Linked DNA regions of Homo sapiens. The protein of the gene in region 1 purifies or fractionates together with the protein of each later gene. This does not show direct contact. Each region holds a gene or a part of one and is shown on either strand. Other genes may lie near its edges. The genes, in order: GUCA1B and LYPLA1.

Region 1 (3,821 bases):
TGAAGGTTGGCCACAAGTGGCCAGCGGGGACTGAAGAAGAGGCCTTGAAATCATTCTGAGTGTGTTTCCTGTGTTCTCATTCTGAGTGTGTAATTTCTAGTGGAATTAAGCTAGAAATCAATCAAAAAAAGATTATTAGAAAATCCCCATCTGTTTGGAAATTAGGCAGTAGACTTCCACATACTCTGTGGAACACACACACACACACACACACACACACACACACACACACGACAAGTATCTTAAATTGAAAAATAATGCAAGCATGACATACTACAACTTGTGGAATGCAGCTAAAGCTGAACCTGCAGAAAAATTTATAGATTTAAAATACACATATTAGAAAATAAGACTTAAAATGCATATATTTTGGAAACAGAAGCTGGGTGCAGTGGCTCATTCCTGTAATCCCAGCACTTTGGGAGGCTGAGGTGGGAGGATTGCTTGAGCCCAGGTGTTCAAGAACAACCTGGAAAACAAAGCGAGACCCCATCTCTACAAAAAAATTAAAAATTAGCCAGGCTTGGAGGTACATGCCTGTAGTCCTAGCTACTTGGGAGACTGAGGTGGGAGGATTGTTTGAGCCAGGAGTTGAAGGCTGCAGTAAGCTATGATCATGCCACTGCATTCCAGCTGGGGCAACAAAGTAAGAACCTGTCTCAAAAAAAAGAAAGAAAAGAAAATATATCTTAGGAAATAATTAGAAATTGCATACTATATTAGAAAATAAGACTTTATATATTAGAAAATCAATGATCTAAGAAACCATCTCAGGAAATTAGAAAAAAGGAAGAGTAAATTAAGGCCAGGCACAGGGACTGACACATGTAACCCCAGCACTTTGGGAGGCTGAGGTGAGTGGATCACTTGAGCCCAGGAGTTCAAGACCAGCCTGGGCAACATAGTAAGACCCCATCTCTACAAAAATTACAAAAAAATTAGCTGGGCGTGGTGGTACGCACCTGTGGTCCCAGCTACTCCAAAGGCTGAGGTGGGAGGATTGCCTGAGCCTGGAAGGTCGAGGCTGCGATGAGCTGTGATTGTGCCACTGCACTCCAGCCTGAGCAACAGAGTGAAACCTTGTCTTTAAAAAAAAAAAAAAAAAAAGTAAAATAAACCCTTGGCCGGGCACGGTGGCCCACGCCTGTAATCCCAGCACTTTGGGAGGCCGAGGCAGGAAGATCACGAGGTCAGGAGATCGAGACCATTCTGGCTAATACAGTGAAACCCTGTCTCTACTAAAAATACAAAAAATTAGCCGGGTGGGGTGGCAGGCACCTATAGTCCCAGCTACTCGGAAGGCTGAGGCAGGAGAATTGCTTGAACCTGGGAGGCGGAGCTTGCAGCAAGCCGAGATTGCACCACTGCACTCCAGCCTGGTGACAGAGCAAGACTCCGTCTCAAAAAAATAAAATAAAATAAATCGAAAGATAGTAGAAGAAAGAAAATAAACAGCAGAAATCAATAAAATAGAAAACACAAATGCATGAGAAAAAGTCAAGAAGATCAGAAGTTATTTCTTTTAAAAGACTAACAATCATTCTCTATTAGCAAGAATGATTAAGGAAGAAAAGAAGTGCCTAGTACATCCCAGACTCTGGCGTGTTCCCTGGGTTAGCCAGACCCGCGCTATGAGGCAGGCATCGTTAGCCCTGTTTCACAGAGCAAGAAGCTGCTTCATAGAGATTCTGTAATCGGCCCAAATTAGTCTACCTAGGAAGTGCTGGGGCTGGATTTAACCCCTCAGTCTCCCAAGACACGTCGATGAGGCCTATTTTATGCTGGGCACTGGGCTGAGCAGTGAGGCCATAGAGGTGCATAAGACGCAGCTTCTGTCCTCAGGGAGCGCCAGCCTGGGAGCTAAGGAGAACCATCATATGTGTCCATCTCTTCCGCATTTACATGGTGCTTTCTTTCTTTCTTTTTTTTTTCTGAGACAGAGCCTCGCTTTGTTGCCCAGGCTGGAATTCAGTGGCGCAATCTCGGCCCACTGCAACCTCTATCTCCCAGGTTCAAGCGATTCTCCTGCCTCAGCCTCCTGAGTAGGTGGGATTACAGGCGCCCACCACCTTGCCCAGCTAATTTTTGTATTTTTAGTAGAGACAGGATTTCATCATGTTGGCCAGGCTGGTCTTGAACTCCTGACTTCAAATGATCCACCCGCCTCGGCCTCCCAAAGTGCTGGGGTTACAGGCATGAGCCACAGCGCCCAGACTACATGGTGCTTTCACAAACATAGTCTCATTGGGAGAGGAAACAGGGCAAAGGAGAAACCTGGGTTTTTCCCTCCAGTCCATGAGGAGGGAACATGTGTATCCCCATCATTCTGTTTTACACATATACAGGCACACTTATATAGATACACTGAATTTTCTTCTCTGCATCTCTATTTCTTCCTGTGTAGAATGCAATTTAGACTGTCATGGTGACTTAAACCTCCCTCATTAGAGGTTTTGGATTTGGGCTTTGCAGCTCACAGTGGAAATGCAAATGGTGTTGGGGTCAGGTGGGGTGTGAGGCCGGGAACTCAGCTGGAATTAGGCCAGTGGGATTCTGAGAGCACCGCCTTAGGACAGGTCAGTTTTGATCTGGATCCAGATTATGTGATCCTAAGACGCACAGCCTGGGAAGCCAGCACTGGGGAAGTGGTGCTGGGGGATGTGGGTCACTGGGGTGAAGGTGGAGCTTTCAGGGTCTCCCGTCAATGCAGCTGAGTTTTCTTTGGCAGGGAATTTACCAGCTGAAGAAAGCCTGCCGGCGAGAGCTACAAACTGAGCAAGGCCAGCTGCTCACACCCGAGGAGGTCGTGGACAGGATCTTCCTCCTGGTGGATGAGAATGGAGATGGTAAGAGGGGCAGAGATGGGGAGAGTGCTGTCCACTCTGCATCATCGCCACTTTCTGGCCGCACGTCCTTGGGCAAGGCCCTCCACCTTCCAACCCTGGGGTCCTCATCTGTGAGAAGGCTGTGGAGAAGATGTCATGAACTAACAAAGGGACTCATGAGCACGTGTTTGTAGGAGTGACTAAAAGTCCTACAGGAGTTGCTGATGGAGGCCAGGCACGCAGAATAGAAAGAATAGGAACTTTGGAGTCAGGCAGGGAGTGATATATTGAGCTTCTCGTCCTAGTCTCAATTTCCTCATCTGGAAAATGGGGATAATAATAGTGGTTGAGAGGAATGAATAGGATAATGTGTTTAAGAGCAGGCATAGGGTAGACCTCCATTCAGGCTGCTTGGGCTTTCCTCCCTGTAGCCCAAAGCCCAGCCTCAGGGCTATGTGGGGAGAGAGCTGGCTTGGAATACACACTTGAGCCCTCCAGCTCTCTCAGCTCCACCCAGCATTTCCGTGGTACCATGCGCAAAAGTAAAACTTCAATTCATCAGCAAAGAAAGCCCCTTAAAGGTGGCAGGAGACTCCTGGAGATTCAGACACCTGACAAGCCGCAAGCTTGAGGTCTGAGACTGCAGGATAGTTGGCATAAGACGTGTAGGCGCATCCTGGGAGCGAGGTCTCTCCTCCTGCCCCCAGACCCAGGTCTCCCCTTCTTCTACATGACCACCTCTCCTCCCCCTTGCTCAGGCCAGCTGTCTCTGAACGAGTTTGTTGAAGGTGCCCGTCGGGACAAGTGGGTGATGAAGATGCTGCAGATGGACATGAATCCCAGCAGCTGGCTCGCTCAGCAGAGACGGAAAAGTGCCATGTTCTGAGGAGTCTGGGGCCCCTCCACGACTCCAGGCTCACCCAGGTTTCCAGGGTAGTAGGAGGGTCCCTGGCTCAGCCTGCTCATGCCCACTCTTCCCCTGGTGTTGACTTCCTG
Region 2 (3,821 bases), on another chromosome or scaffold:
AACACATTACACATCTCCTTCCCACTCTGAAATTCTCTCCACCCATACTCTCAACACCTAACTCCTTTTCTCATTAGGCTAAACTGTAATGTGTCCCCCAAAGTTCTATCCCTGAGCTTTTTTTCTTATAATGCTTTCTCAAGATAATTCTTCGTTGATCAATTATATTAGTAATTATTTCAAATCTCCATTTCCAGGCTTGAACTTCAGACAAGTATTTCCAATATCCTATTTTGATATTGTGGGGGCACATTGATCTCAATACATTAAACTCAGTATTATCTCCTTCCTTTACTCTAAAACTGTTTCTTGCACCTACTTTTTATGATGGCATCAGAACTAGAAATCTCAGGCCCTTTTGATACTTCCTTGGTTACTACACCCCACATAATTAATCTCTAAATCCTGCTGGATCACCTGTCTCTAGAATGTAGATCAGATCACATCTCACTTCAACCAAAAACACTGACAGCTTCCTGCTGCCTAGAGAGTAAGTCTAGTAAGTCCCTTCTCAGCACAAAGAGTCTCTGTTCCCTATGTCTTCTGTCCTATCATGCCCAGCTTTTCCTAAGACTGAATGGCTTGCTTTTCCTGTCCTATAGTTCTTTCTCTGCACATTTGCTATCCAAATCCCACCGTTTTTCAAAATCTAGCTGTTTCATCATGGTCTCAGTGCCTCCTAAGATAAAATTAATCTCTTCTCAGTTTTTCAGGGCACCTTTTGTTATTTTCCAAGGGCACTTTTTAAAGCTTCTAATACAATGTATATCACATTCTGCTATCCATACAGTTACTTAGACATGCATCTTTCTATTAAATTTTATCTTAAATTTTAATGAAAGGGAATGTTTATTATTCATCTTTGAATTATGTACAATGCTGTGTATAATAGCCAATCAGTAAATATTTGTTGAATTAAGTTGAATACACACTCATCTAATGACTGCTAACTTATGACTCAATATGAATTAACTCATTTAAATCCCCAAGCATTCAAATGTTACTTTTCTTGAAAATATCACATGAAAAAAGTTACAAATATGGCGCTGATCACTGCTTCTAGACACCTACCTGTTGACACGAACTGTGCATCATACCTTCATAGGTTTTAAAGGTCACATTGGCTGGATTCACCAATGTTTTTAGTTTTTCCACCGTAAGAGAACCAAACATCAGGGGAACCAAAGGGTCACAATCCCCGTGGCACTGGAGAATAGAAATATCTCTATTAGCACCACCGATAGGACCCTGCAAAAAGCAAAAGAAGAAATAGTTTTATTTTTGTAAAAGTATAGGACACTATGCCAGGCATTTAAAATTGTACATAAATATGCATATATATAACATATTAGAAGTTACATTTGGCCAAAAAAATAAAATTCCTTCATCCATATACTCACCACATCCCTTTGACTTCTATAGGATGTATGATCACCTTGCCTCATATTATAATATATATCTTCCCAGTGAATGAGTTCCTTGAAGCAGATTATATATACATTTTTTTGTTTCGTTTAGTTTTTTTGAGACGGAGTCTTGCTCTGTTGCCCAGGCTGGAGTGCAGTGGCGTGATCTCAGCTCACTGCAACCTCTGCCTCCCAGGTTCAAGCAATTCTCCTGCCTCAGCCTCCCAAGTAGCTGGGATTACAGGCACGTGCCACCACGCCCAGCTAATTTTTTTGTATTTTTTAGTAGAGACAGGGTTTCACTGTGTTACCCAGGATGGTCTCAATCTCCTGACCTTGTGATCCACCTGCCTTGGCCTCCGAAAGTGCTGGGATTACAGGCGTGAGCCACTGCACCCAGCCAAGCAGATTATATTTTAATCCATCTTTATATTTTCAGCTTTTTTTTGTTTGTTTGGTTGGTTGTTTTAGTATTTTGAGTTGCTGTTTTATTCAGCTATCTTTTTTTTTTTTTTTCCCCCAAAGACAGAGTCTTGCTCTGTTACCCAGGCTGGAGTGAAGTGGCACAATCGTGGCTCACTGCAACTTCCACCTCCTGGGTTCAAGTGATTCTCATGCCTCAGCCTCCTGAGTAGCTGGGATTATAGGTGTGCACCACGACGCCCAGCTAATTTCTGTATTTTTAGTAGCCATGGGGTTTCACCATGTTGGCCAGGCTGGTCTTGAACTCCTGACCTGAGGTAATCCACCCGCCTCAGCCTCCCAAAGTGCTGGGATTACAGGCATGAGCCACCGCACCTGGTCTAAAAATAAGTATGATTTCTATATGTTAAAAAAAGTCCTAATTTTCATATATATCCTAAAATGTATCAAATCCTTCTAATATAAGATTTGTGACAATAAGGTTTCTTTCTAATTCCATTCTATGTACTCCACAATACAGACAGTATAGCGTACAGAAATAAGGCCTAGTAATACATCACAAAAGTCTAAGAAAATTATTTTTAAAAAAGGATGAGTGCTGTAAGTGGAGGACTTGGTGATGGTGATGTGTCAGTGCAGCATTACTGACTGCAGCAAAAACATGGCTGTGGAGGTGGGGATGCTGATGGTGGGGAGGCTGTGCATGTGTGGGGACAGGAGGTAGATAGTAACTCTGTACCTTCTGCTCAGTTTTGCTGTGAATTTAGAACTTCTCCAAAAAATAAAGTTTATTAATAAAAAAAAATAAGATGACTTTATCTCCAACAATATCTACTAGCTACCTTTAGCTCAGTAATCTCATGTTGAGTGCATCAACCAAGTTACCTGTGGAAAGGAAGCCCGAAGTGGAAGCCAGCAACTGAGTGCAGTGACACCTGCCAGTTTCTGCTGTGTGGTAAGGGCAGTATATAAAGATAAAGCTCCTCCCTGAAAAGACAAGCAGGGAAAGTCAATGGAACACACATGCTTGCCCACAGCAATTTAGGGAATATCTTGTTACTAATGATATCCATAAAAAAATCAAACTTGGTGGCTGGTGTCAAATCAAATCAGGCAAATATCGGAAATACAAACACACCCCACCGTGTCCTAAAGGATGCGGTTCTCTACACCAGAGAACATACAGACTTCCTTTCCGACGAGACATAGTTTGTACCATGGGAAACTGCTGCACTTACAACATGCCTTACGAATATTCTGAATTTATATTTTCTCCTTTGCAGAATTTTAGGCATAAAATCCAATCTGCTCTTAAATTGGTATTACTTTTTTTTTTTTTTTTGAGATGGAGTTTCACTCTTGTTGCCCAGGCTGGAGAGTAATGGTGCAATCTTGGCTCACCACAACCTCCGCCTCCTGAGTTCAAGCGATTCTCCTGCCTCAGCCTCCCGAGTAGCTGGGATTACAGGCATGCACCACCACACCCGGCTAATTTTGTATTTTTGGTAGAGACGGGGTTTCTCCATGTTGGTTAGGCTGGTCTCAAACTCCCGACCTCAGGTGATCCACGCGCCTCAGCCTCCCAAAGTGTTGGGATTACAGGTGTGAGCCACCGTGCCTGGCCCTTAAATTGGTATTACTTTCTAAATGAGAATTTAAGATAATAATAACTATTTAGCAGACACCTTCAGAGTATCTGCCTACCCAGCTCACAACATCCCACATTCTGGAAGCTGTACTCCTGCCAGCATCCAGAAGCCCCATCACTCTGACCATGCCCATGGGTTACTGCAACACATGAGTACACGAGAGCCTTTCACATCCCAGGCAGTGATGTTTTCTCCTGGCACTGTGGAAATGGGATTCGATGACCACCAGTCACTCTCTGTGTGGCTACACCTGTAACATGTAAATTCAAGAGCTGGAAAAGCTATAGGCTGCAAAAGCCAAGATGGCCAATTGTTTATGGAAAGGTAAATGAAACAGACAAGC

Evidence for each region.
Region 2: the proteins of GUCA1B (region 1) and LYPLA1 purify together in Homo sapiens (affinity purification with mass spectrometry; one large-scale study listed by BioGRID and IntAct). This does not show direct contact.

The regions. Positions count from the first base shown.
Region 1 is NC_000006.12:42,184,705-42,188,525, reverse strand, and holds part of GUCA1B (guanylyl cyclase-activating protein 2), read left to right. Parts: intron 1-2,728; coding exon 2,729-2,846; intron 2,847-3,583; coding exon 3,584-3,711; 3' UTR 3,712-3,821. UniProt on the Homo sapiens protein: Stimulates two retinal guanylyl cyclases (GCs) GUCY2D and GUCY2F when free calcium ions concentration is low, and inhibits GUCY2D and GUCY2F when free calcium ions concentration is elevated.
Region 2 is NC_000008.11:54,049,941-54,053,761, forward strand, and holds part of LYPLA1 (acyl-protein thioesterase 1), read right to left. Parts: intron 2,817-3,821; coding exon 2,715-2,816; intron 1,249-2,714; coding exon 1,072-1,248; intron 837-1,071; exon of another isoform or gene 1-836. Other genes in the region: LYPLA1-TCEA1 readthrough, read right to left, coding at 1,072-1,248, 2,715-2,816. UniProt on the Homo sapiens protein: Acts as an acyl-protein thioesterase. Hydrolyzes fatty acids from S-acylated cysteine residues in proteins such as trimeric G alpha proteins or HRAS.